2 separate regions of the Homo sapiens genome follow, and region 2 is linked to region 1. Evidence: fine-mapped expression QTL. Tissue or cell type: breast. Region 1 holds a variant in brackets; the other region holds the start of a gene. All regions are shown on one strand. Distances are from middle to middle.

The links. PIP is the estimated chance that this variant, and not a neighbour inherited with it, causes the effect.
Region 2: it holds the start of C2CD4C, and the variant in region 1 is the best candidate, but not a certain one, in a credible set for the expression of C2CD4C in breast (GTEx, PIP 0.53).

What each region holds. Positions count from the first base shown.
Region 1 is chr19:328,280-334,244 of GRCh38, reverse strand. The region is part of intron 3 of MIER2 (MIER family member 2); the gene reads left to right. Among named protein-coding and RNA genes, the nearest start is that of MIER2, 14 kb to the left of the region's middle. RefSeq lists a silencer at 5,870-5,965. The variant G/T (reference allele first, on the strand shown) is at 2,341.
Region 2 is chr19:406,058-412,022 of GRCh38, reverse strand. C2CD4C (C2 calcium dependent domain containing 4C) reads left to right here and starts at 2,876. Exons shown (of 2, transcript NM_001136263.2): 1 at 2,876-3,017; 2 at 3,622-5,965. The coding sequence starts at 3,662. The coding sequence ends at 4,927. It overlaps LOC124904607 (proline-rich proteoglycan 2-like), which reads left to right. Exons shown (of 2, transcript XM_047439790.1): 2 at 463-2,501. The coding sequence starts at 567. The coding sequence ends at 1,730. RefSeq lists enhancers at 4,133-5,013, 5,014-5,893.

The DNA.
Region 1 (5,965 bases):
GAGACCAGGTCTTTCATGGGGCTCTCTGAGCAGCACGGTGGTCAAGGATTAAGCCAGCTGCTCTCAAATCTTCTGGTCTCAGAACCTGCTTTGTACTCTTAAAAATTATTGAGAGTTTCAGGCTGGGTGCAGTGGCTCACGCTTGTAATCCCAGCACTTTGGGAGGCTGAGGCGGGTGGATCACTTGAGATCAGGAGTTCGAGACCAGCTTGGCCAACATGGTGAAACCCCATCTCTACTAAGAATACAAAATTGTCGGGCGCGGTGGCTCACACCTGTAATCCCAGCACTTTGGGAGGCCGAGGTGCGCGGATCACAAGGTCAGGAGATCGAGACCGTCCTGGCTAACACGGTGAAACCCTGTCTCTACTAAAAATACAAAAACAAAATTAGCCGGGCATAGTGGCGGGTGACTGTAGTCCCAGCTACTCGGGAGGCTGAGGCGGGAGAATGACGTGAACCCGGGAGACGGAGCTTGCAGTGAGCTGAGATCGTGCCACTGCACTCCAGCCTGGGTGACACAGCGAGACTCCGTCTCCAAAAAAGAAAAAAAAGAATACAAAATTAGCCAGGCGTGGTGGTGCACGTCTATAGTCCCAGCTACTCGGGAGGCTGAGGCAGGAGAATCCCTTGAACCTGGGAGGCGGAGGTTGCGGTGAGCCGAGATCACGCCATTGCACTCCAGCCTGGGCGACAGAGTGAGACCCTGTCTCAAAAAAAAAAATTAAAAAAAATTAGAGTTTCAAGGAGCTTTGTTAATGTGCTTTATCTATTGCTTTTTTATTACATGAAAAGTTAAAACTGACATGTAAATTGGCCGGATGCAGTGGCTCATGCCTGTAATCCCAGCACTTTGGGAGGCCGAGGTAGGCGGATCATGAGGTCAGGAGTTTGAGCCTAGCCTGGCCAACGTAGTGAAACCCTGTCTGTACTAAAAATACAAAAATTGTTGGGCGCGGTGGCTCATGCTTGTAATCCCAGCACTTTGGGAGGCTGAGGCAGGTGGATCACCTGAGGTCAGGAGTTCTAGATCAGGCTGGCCAACATGGTGAAACCCCGTCTCTACTAAAAATACAAAAACAAAATTAGCCGGGCATAGTGGCGGGTGACTGTAGTCCCAGCTACTCGGGAGGCTGAGGCGGGAGAATGACGTGAACCCGGGAGACGGAGCTTGCAGTGAGCTGAGATCGTGCCACTGCACTCCAGCCTGGGTGACACAGCGAGACTCCGTCTCCAAAAAAGAAAAAAAAGAATACAAAATTAGCCAGGCGTGGTGGTGCACGTCTATAGTCCCAGCTACTCGGGAGGCTGAGGCAGGAGAATCCCTTGAACCTGGGAGGCGGAGGTTGCGGTGAGCCGAGATCACGCCATTGCACTCCAGCCTGGGCGACAGAGTGAGACCCTGTCTCAAAAAAAAAAATTAAAAAAAATTAGAGTTTCAAGGAGCTTTGTTAATGTGCTTTATCTATTGCTTTTTTATTACATGAAAAGTTAAAACTGACATGTAAATTGGCCGGATGCAGTGGCTCATGCCTGTAATCCCAGCACTTTGGGAGGCCGAGGTAGGCGGATCATGAGGTCAGGAGTTTGAGCCTAGCCTGGCCAACGTAGTGAAACCCTGTCTGTACTAAAAATACAAAAATTGTTGGGCGCGGTGGCTCATGCTTGTAATCCCAGCACTTTGGGAGGCTGAGGCAGGTGGATCACCTGAGGTCAGGAGTTCTAGATCAGGCTGGCCAACATGGTGAAACCCCGTCTCTACTAAAAATACAAAAATTAGCCGGGCGTGGTAGCAGGCGCCTGTAATCCCAGCACTCAAAGGGCTGAGGCAGGAGAATCGCTTGAACCCAGGAGGCGGAGGTTGCAGTGAGCCGAGATCAGGCCATTGCACTCTAGCCTGGGGGACAGAGCAAGACTGTGTCTCAAAAAAACAAAAAAAATTGACATGTAAAAATACTTATTCGCTAACTCATTTTAAAATGAGCTGAGATGTGCCACTGCAGTCCAGCCTGAGTGACACAGTGAAACTCCATCTCAAGAAAAAAAAAGAATACGAAAATTGCCAGGCGTGGTGGTGCACGTCTGTAGTCCTAGCTACTCAGGAGGCTGAATAAATCAGTGACATGTTAATATAAATATTTTTATGAAAATAAAAAGAACTGTCCCAAAAGAAAAAAAATTAGAAGACTGAATTTTTAGTTTTCCATATCTCTTTGAATGTAGAAGCAAATATGAAAATCCAGCTTCTGTCTTTTTATTTTTTTGAGATGGAGTCTTGCTCTGTTTCCCAGGCTGGAGTGCAGTGGTGTGATCTTGGCTCACTGCATCCTCCGCCTCCTG[G/T]GCTCAAGTGATTCTCCTACCTCAGCCTCCCGAGTAGCTGGGACCACAGGTGCATGCCACCACGCCCGGCAAATTTTTGTATTTTTAGCAGAGACGGGGTTTCATCATGTTGGACAGGCTGGTCTCAAACTCTTGACCTTGTGATCTGCCCACCTCGGCCTCCCAAAGTGCTGGATTACAGGCATGAGCCACCACGCCTGGCCAAGCTTCTGTCTTTAAAACATTTATTTATTTTTTTGAGACTGGATCTCACTTTTGCCTAGGCTGGAGTGCAGTGGTGCAATCATAGTTTACTGCAGCCTCGAACTCCTGGGCTCAAGGGATGCTCCTGCCTCAGCCTCCTGAATAACTGGGACTATAGTCGCACGCCACCACACCTCACCAACGTTTTTATTTTATTTCTTTGTGGAGTTCTTGCTATGTTGCTAGGGTTGGTCTCAAACTGTTGGCCTCAAGCAATTTTTCTACCTAGGTCTCCCAAAGTGTTGGGAGTATAGGTGTGAGCCACTGTACCTGACCCAGTTTCTGTCTTTTTTTTTTTTTTCTGGGGACAGAGTCTCACTCTGTTGCCCAGACTGGAGTTCAGTGGTGCAATCTGGGCTCACTGGAACCTCTACCTCTTGGGTTCAAGTGATTCTCGTGCCTTAGCCTCCTGAGTAGCTGGGACTACAGGTGCCCACCACCATGCCTGGCTAACTTGTATTTTTAGTAGAGACGAGGTTTTACCATGTTGGCCAGGCTGGTCTCGAACTCCTGACCTCAAGTTGATCCTGCCATCTCAGCCTCCCAAAATGCTTGGATTACAGGCATGAGCCACGCCTGGTCAGTTTCTGTCTTTTAAGGGAGACATTGATCTGTTGTGATAGGCTCTTATGGCTGAAGTTAAAATACAGCCTCAGCCAGATCTGTGGTTGAAAAAGGTAGGAGTATTTCACAGCTTTTCGGATAATTGTGGGTATTCTTCTTTGATGCTACAGCAAAACCCATCAAGTGATAGTTTTGTAGAGAGTAGTTGTGGAGTGGAATCTGAGACCGTATCAGTGAACCTCACAGGTCAAGAGGCAGAAAGGTCCATGATCAAGGTCCAGCAGAGTGGGTTCTGGTGCCGGCTCTCTTCTTGGCTTGCTGTGTCCTCACATGGTGGATAGAGAACAAGAGGGAGCCTTCTGGTGTTTTTCTTGAAAGGACACTAATCCTGTTGGATCAGGGCCCCACCCTCACGGCCTCCTTGAACCTTAATTACCTCTGTAAATGCCCCGTCTCCAAATATAGTCATGTTGGGGCTTAGGGTTGACTGTAACAGTTGATATCACCACCAGCCTTATCATAAGTTTTTTTTTTTTTTTTTTCTTTTTTTTGAGACAGGGTCTCGCTGTCGCCCAGGCTGGAGTGCAGTGGCGCGATCTTGGCTCACTGCAAGCTCCGCCTCCCAGGTTCATGCCATTCTCCTCCCTCAGCCTCCCGAGTAACTGGGACTACAGGCACCTGCCACCTTGCCTGGCTAATTTTTTGTATTTTTTTTAGTAGAGACGGGGTTTCATCATGTTCGCCAGGATGGTCTCAATCTCCTGACCTCGTGATCCGCCCGCCTCGGCCTTCCAAAGTGCTGGGATTACAGGCGTGAGCCACCGTGCCTGGCCTGTAAGTTTTTTAAATATTAGAAATTCGGCAAGTTCATGTTGTCAAACCCAAGTTTTTCAAAATCTTGAGTTTTACCATTGCAGCAGTTATGGTCAGCTGTTTCCTTTGCAGTAACAGCCCCCCTGGCTTGCATACAAGGCAGCGCCTGCCAGGTGCCTTTCTGAGTGGCTATAGTTGGCCAGCATTCTTTCAGGTGAAACGACCAGGAACAGCCTCTTCGTCTCACCACTCGTTCCATGCATGTGGTTCCTTGAAGGAACCACCTCACTTTGGTATGCAGCAGGTGCATTCTGCATGCTTCCCACGCCCTCACAGCACATGGAAACATCTGCTCAGGGTGAGACTTAACAAAATGCTCACTTTGTCCAGCATCTTCTTTTTTTTTTTTTTTTTTTTTGAGACGGAGTATTGCTCTCGTCACCTAGGCTGGAGTGCAGTAGCACAATGTCGGCTCACTGCAACCTCTGCCTCCTAGGTTCAAGCGATTCTCCCTGGGATTACAGGAACCCACCACCATCCCCAGCTAATTTTTGTATTTTAGTAGAGACAGGGTTTCTCCATGTTAGTTAGGCTGGTCTCAAACTCCTGATCTCGTGATCCGCCTGCCTCAGCCTCCCAAAGTGCTGGGATTACAGGCATGAGCCATCCTGCCCGGCTGTCCAGCATCTTCTGAAGTGAAGCTGGGGTGTTTGCTTTTGGTCTGTGAGGAATGTGACAGCAGTGACTTGTGGGCAGGGATGCACTGGCTGCAGCTTCCACGGGCACTGGGCTCTTGCCGGCTGCCAATGCTGCACTATCAGTGCAAGCCTCAATGAAGCCAAAAATGGAAGTCACGGCTGAGTGCTCTTAGGAAAGGGTCTTCACCTTGGGCTACTATGGAGAGGTTCAGGCAACCCAAGGGCCTCTGGACCACTGTGTCAACCTTCCCACCTTCATAATCCTGAAGGTAATGGACATACAGAATCTGTTCTTTCCACGGGGTCCTGTGAGAGAACAAAAGGGGGACTCAGTGTAGATATTCCACCTGGAGAAGGGCTGGGACTAGGCTGGGAGGTTTCTATGTGGACTTGAAGCCCCCAGGTTGAGTCTGGGCAGGAGCTGGGGTGGAGGGGAGGCCAGTGCTAACATCTTGAGAGAATGAGAGGGAGTGTTCCGGAAGTTGGAAGCTGAAAGTGACCCACAGGGATCAGCGTGGAGTCTGAGCAGACAGGACTAGCCTCTGTGGAATAGAGGCTCACACAAGGGAGGACAGAAGGATTTGAAAGCAGCACTGGAGAGCATGATGTTGATAGTTCGCATCTCTTCCTTCCCAGGAATTACGTGCCTTATTTATACTTCTTGTCATATTACATTGGCTCAGAGCATCAAAACAGTGTTCGTTAATCACAGTGCTCTTGTTCCAGATCGTGATGGGGGCTGCTCTGGTTACCCATTTTTGACTGAGTGTGAATTGACAGCTTCTCCATTATATTGATGAAGCATCCGTTTACATAGTTTTCTTCTTTTTTTTTATTTTGAGACAGATTCTCACTCTGCCACCCAGGCTGGAGTGCAGTGGTGTGATCTTGGCTCACTGCAACCTCCATCTCCCGAGTACAAGTGATTCTCGTGCTTCAGCCTCTTGAGTAGCTGAGACTACAGGTGGATGCCACCAAGCACAGCTAATTTTTGTATTTTTAGTGGAGACGGGATTTCGCCATGTTGCCCAGGCTGGTCTCGAACTCCTGGCCTCAAGTGATCTGCCTGCTGTAGCCTTCCAAAATGCTGGGATTACAGGTGTGAACTACTGTGTCTGGCCTGTTTATGTAGTTTTCTGAGAGTTCCTTTTTTTTTTTTTTCAAATCAGGAATAGATGTCGGATTTTACCAAATGCCTTTTTCAGATAACTTTTTTCCCCTTTAATATATTGATGTTGAGTTACAATAGTAAATTGCCAGGTGTCGCACCATCCTTGTATTCCTGTAATTCACCCTGTGTCACACCA
Region 2 (5,965 bases), 78 kb before region 1:
GCACTTTGAGGTCTGGGCCAGCTCCCCCCTGGTTGAGACCCTTCCTGACCTGCAGAAGCGTCTGAGGGAGAGGGCGACTGACGCCTGCCTCGCACACATGGTGGGGTGCTGTAGGCACTTTGCACATAGTGATCTGTTGAGCCCTCCCTCGAGAGCCGTGGTGCCCTGGGCTGCTGAAGAGACAGAGGTCTGGATGCTTGTCCAGCGTCACACAGTGGGAAGGGTTGGCACCAGGATTCAAGCCCTGATTGACCAGCTCTGGATTTGTGTCCTAGCATGGAGACAGGCATAGTGTAAACTCAGTGCCTCATCCCCCAACCCAGCTGGCAGGAGAGGCTCTGCCCCCACCTGGGCTGGGCAGGGGTGCCGGAGAGCGAACCCCCAATACCTGGGGCTGGCCTGATGTCAGGAGACCCGTCACTGCCCCTTCCTAGGACCCAAGCTGTCCGCTTCCCTCCCCAGGCCCTGCTGTCCTTGTCTGCAATGGAGGAGGGTGGCTCTGTGGCCCCTGAGGCCCCCTCTCCTCGGGCCTGCTGAAAGAGCACTGTTTCGGGGCCATCGTGGCGATGCTATTCACCCATTTGTTTGGCAAATGTTTACTGGAGACATGGCTGGCCTGTGCCTTGGGGCCACTACAGGGACAGGACCTCCAGGACCCTCCTCCCGGCTCGGGCCCAGCAGAGACGGTGGACAGACCCCCAGGATCCGGGCCCAGCAGAGACGGTGGACAGACCCCCAGGATCCGGGCCCAGCAGGGGCGGTGGACAGACCCCCAGGATCCGGGCCCAGCAGAGACGGTGGACAGACCCCCAGGATCCGGGCCCAGCAGGGGCGGTGGACAGACCCCCAGGATCCGGGCCCAGCAGGGGCGGTGGACAGACCCCCAGGATCCGGGCCCAGCAGGGGCGGTGGACAGACCCCCAGGATCCGTGCCCAGCAGGGGCGGTGGACAGACCCCCAGGATCCGGGCCCAGCAGGGGCGGTGGACAGACCCCCAGGATCCGGGCCCAGCAGGGGCGGTGGACAGACCCCCAGGATCCGGGCCCAGCAGGGGCGGTGGACAGACCCCCAGGATCCGGGCCCAGCAGGGGCGGTGGACAGACCCCCAGGATCCGGGCCCAGCAGGGGCGGTGGACAGACCCCCAGGATCCGGGCCCAGCAGTGACGGTGGACAGACCCCCAGGATCCGTGCCCAGCAGGGGCGGTGGACAGATCCCCAGGATCCGGGCCCAGCAGGGGCAGTGGACAGACCCCCAGGACCCTCCTCCCGCCTCAGGCCCAGCAGGGGTGGTGGACAGCAGCCCAAGGGTATTCTGCATGGCAGCTGGAGCTGGGGTTCGGGGGCCCTGCTAGTCTGTGGTGGGGCCTGCCCAGGCTTCCTGGAGGCGGCGGCGGTGAAGGGGAGAATTCCTCGGTGTCTGCCTCCTTGTCAGACTTCGGGGCTGCGTCGCGGTTGCCCCAGCACAAAAATGAGGGCTCATCAACGTTTGCTGGGTGAGCAAAGCTTAGATGGGGTCACAGCTCCTCCGGGTTTCACTTTCCCCTCTGGACGGCAGGACTCTAACCCCTTATTGCAAGGGTACGTGGAGAGTGGGGAGGCCTCAGCCCAGCTCTCTCGCCCTCCTGGACCCCTCTTCTACCACTGTGGCAGCAGCCGCTCCTCCCAGCTTGGGCCACATCCAGACTTGGGGACATTCCCAGAATGCAGGAGGCTCCTGGACAATCAATAATTCAATAAAGCGCCAGGCGTCCGCCGGCTCCGGGTTGGTCCTGGGGATATGTTATCTTGCTGGCTCCAAGCACGAGGAGGCTGGGAACTGCTCAGCTCGGTTCCAGAAGAGGAAACTGAGGCGGGGAGGGCAGGGAGGGAGGGAGAGAAGGAAGCAGTGAAGGCCGGGGCTGGCAGATCACGAAGCAGCTGGCAGGAGGGGGGTCGGGGCCTCAGGAGGGGGGGACCCTGTGGTCTCAGGAACTGCCAGGAAGCCTGGGTTTGGACCTGGTCTTGCCCCCTATGGGTTTCTCCATCCGTGAATCACACGCATGTGCCTTCTCTCTTCGCCCCGACCCTCACGCTTTCCTGCTGTATTCCTGTTCCGGGCGTCACCACCCCTGCAGTTCTAAGCTGCACCTGTACGCTCTGTGGGCATCCTGCCCCTGCATCACCAGGGCTGGGGCCACCTCCCTCCGTCCCAGCTGTGTCCCCGGTGGCCAGGTCACTGTCCAGCATCAAGCGGGTGCTCAGGAAACGTTTGTCCATGAAATGAAGGAGCCCCCCCCTTCCAGGCTTCTTGTAGGGCTGCTGAGAGGTTGCCCATTTAGTAAGACCTGCTGTCCTAGCTGTTCGGTCCTTGTTTCTGGAAGGAAACCCCCCACCTTCCTCATCTACAGATTGAGAATTGCAGTAGGACCTGCGTACTGGGTTGTGTGAGAGTCAGAGACCCGCCAGGACGCTGGGAGGCTGGCAGGGAGGAAACGCTCCATCATAAACCCAGCTGCATTTATTACTGTTGCCGTCATTTAATTCGTCGTCGTTAGTCGGGAAAGCTCCTCGCCGGCAGCGAGTAGGGGGTCTGGGACCCTCTTCCGGTATACGGAGGCAGGGGCTTGGGAGTCCGACTTCCCGGAATCTGCGGGCGTGAGCGCCGGGGGTGGCCGTCAGCCAACCGTGACCACCTGCTTGTCTCCCACCGGCCCCCAGTCAGCCCCCGGGCCCTGGCGAGGCTCCTCCCTGCCACCAGCCTCCGGGGGCTGCGGGGAGACGGCCCCACCCCCTTCCCGCGGGGGCGGGGGCGCGGGCGCGGGCGCGGGCGGCCGTACTCGGAGGAATACGGCGGCGGCGGCGGCGGGGCTGGGCGGTTTCCCGCCGCGGGTGAATGAGTCCGACTGCGCTGCCGCCGCCGCCGCCGCCCGCATCGAAGCTCCGGCCGCGTCCCCCGCGCCAGCCCCGGGAGCCTGCGCGCCGAGACCCCTGCGTGTCTGCGAACAGACCTCCGGCCTCGGGCCATCACCCCGGGCAGGTAAGTCCGGGGACCCCGCCCGGTCTGCGGGGACCGCCGGGACCCCACCCCCCACCCCAAGCGGAGTCGGGGAGGGCTGGGGGCGGGGGGACACCGGGGAGTCGACTCGCTGCTCTCTCGGCCCCAGACCTACCGCCCCTCCCTTCCCCCACCCCGAACGCCTGGCCCTCCGGTCCAGGGAGGAGCCACAGGTGGGTGGGAGCCGGGGGGGCGGAGCTGGGACACCCCGGGGGTCCACCCACATCCGTGTCTTCCCCTGGGACTGAGCGCGGAACCCTTTGGAATGAGCGCTGAGATGCTCAAAACCAGAGTGGGGGCGGGCGAGGGGCCAGTCTCCTCTGGGAGCTCCCCGGAGAGTCAGAGCGCGGCCCCCACGCCCCTGGGCTTGGTGCTGGGAAGTTAAGCGGGATCTCTCCGGAAAAAGGTGGGGGGAACCCGCCTCACTCCTGTCCTGGGCCGCCGCGCCTGGGCGGGACGCCCCCAGGGGACCCCTCCACCCCCACCCCGCCGGCAGGGCCCTGCCGGGAGGCCCCACAGGGAGCAGGTGCCCAGGGCCCTCTGCCAGCCGCCCCCCACTGCTCCTGACCCCTGCTTCTCTTCCCAGACGCTGCAGCCCCTGTCCGGGCCTCTTGCCTGCCGCCCCCATGAGAAAAACCAACATGTGGTTCTTGGAGCGGCTTCGGGGGTCTGGGGAAAACGGTGCTGCCCGGGGCGTGGGGAGTGAGGCGGGGGACAAGGCCTCCAAGGGGCCCCTGTACAGCAATGTGTTGACGCCCGACAAGATCCCCGACTTTTTCATCCCCCCCAAGCTGCCCTCGGGCCCCGCGGAGGGCGAGGGACAGGCCGCGCTGGGCCCCTCCACGTCGGAACAGAACCTGGCCTCTGCGGCCCCCCGCCAGACCCCACGGAGCCCCCGGCTGCCTGCCAAGCTGGCAGCCGAGAGCAAGAGCCTGCTGAAGGCAGCCACCCGGCACGTGATCCAGATCGAGAGTGCCGAGGACTGGCTGTCCGAGGAGGCCACTGACGCCGACCCCCAGGCCCAGGGTGCCATGTCCCTGCCCTCGGTGCCCAAGGCCCAGACGTCCTACGGCTTCGCCATGCTGGCTGAGAGCCCCCACACGAGGCGCAAGGAGTCTCTGTTCCACAGTGAGCACGGGGCTCTGGCCCAGGTGGGCTCCCCAGGGGCCGGGCGCCGCCGGGCAGCTGCCAAGGCCAACGGGGGTGATGGGGGCCCCAGGGAGGCTGGCGGGGCCCTCATGAGCCCCGGCCGCTACTTCAGTGGCGGGGAGAGCGACACAGGGTCCTCGGCCGAGTCCTCCCCCTTCGGGTCCCCTCTGCTGTCCCGCTCCGTGTCTCTGCTCAAAGGTTTCGCCCAGGACAGCCAGGCCAAGGTGAGCCAGCTCCGGCACTCCGTGGGCCGCCACGGCTCCCTGTCTGCGGACGACAGCACCCCGGACGCCAGCCCCGGGAGCCGGCGCCGCCTGACCCGCCGGGCACCCCCGGAACCTGGCCCCGAGTCGGGCCAGGCGCGTGGGGAGCACACGGTCCACGTGGGCCCTCGGGGCAGCGTGCGGCTGCTGGCCGAGTACGAGGCCGGCCAGGCCCGCCTGCGGGTGCACCTGCTGGCCGCCGAGGGCCTCTACGACCGCCTGTGCGACGCCCGCAGCATCAACTGCTGCGTGGGCCTGTGCCTGGTGCCGGGCAAGCTGCAGAAGCAGCGCAGCACCATCGTGAAGAACAGCCGCCGCCCCGTCTTCAACGAGGATTTCTTCTTCGACGGCCTGGGGCCCGCCAGCGTCCGGAAACTGGCCCTCAGGATCAAGGTGGTGAACAAGGGCAGCAGCCTCAAGCGGGACACGCTGCTCGGGGAGAAGGAGCTGCCCCTGACCTCCCTGCTCCCCTTCCTGTAGAGCGGGGACCTGCTCGCTGTCCGCTCGGGTGCAGAGGGCAGACCCCGGTCTCTCCTCCACACCGGGTGCTGGCGGGCGGGTCCGCTGGCTTGGGCTGGGGCTGGCCGGGGAGGGGCTCACACTCAGGCTGGGCTGGGCGCTGATGCTGTAGCTGACGCAGGGTTTCCTGGGTCACCCGATGCTGACTGGAGTATTATTTTTCATGAATTAATTTCTCCTTTGGAGGAGGAGGAGGAGGAGGAGAGGGGCCTCGGGGGAAGAGAAGGGGCCACTTCGCGGGGCAGAGGGTCCCCCTTTGCCCCTCCACACTGCCTCGCGCCTTTCACGCAGAGTTCTAGAAGGAGGTTCTCAGGGGTTCAGGAATCCGTGCATGTGGCCAGGGCGGGGCCGTGGACAGGGAGGTGACAAGTCTTGGAGCCCACAGTCTCCTTCACTGCACGTGTGTCTTCCTCCCCCACAGCCTGCCGCCATCCAGTTCCCACCCCGCGGAGAGCAGGGCCTCGCGGCCACACCAGGCCCAGGCTCTGCCCGGGACGCCCCCTCCCAGGGGTCAGGCTTGGCTCTGGGAGACCCCAGCTTCCCAGGCTCCGGTGGGGAGTGGGGCCAGGCGAGGGTGCCCTGACGAGGGTGGGCGCGGAGGGAGCAGCCGCTGCCACAGTCGGAGCAGAGGAGGTCTTGGCAGAGGTCCGCGGGGAGGAGACGGCTCTCCTGGCCTGTTTTCCTCCAACACTGTCGCCGCTGGCTTTTTGGGTACAGGCCCGTCTGGCCATTTCTGCTGTGGCGCCGGAGGGTCTTGCTCAGAGATGCCCAGAGAGCAGCCCTATGGCCCATCCGTCCTCGCTGGGGGCTGCCACCCCGTCGCCCTTTTGTCCAGCGTCTGCAGCTGGGAGCGACACGCAGTGATTGACGGCCGTGGCTTTGACGCCACGTGTGTAAATAGGCTGTGGCTACGGTGGGTGGGTCGGAGCCCAGGAGGCAGCTGGGGGGACCTGGCTATGGCCTTTCCTGCTGTTAGGTGGCTGCAAGGCTTCCATTGTG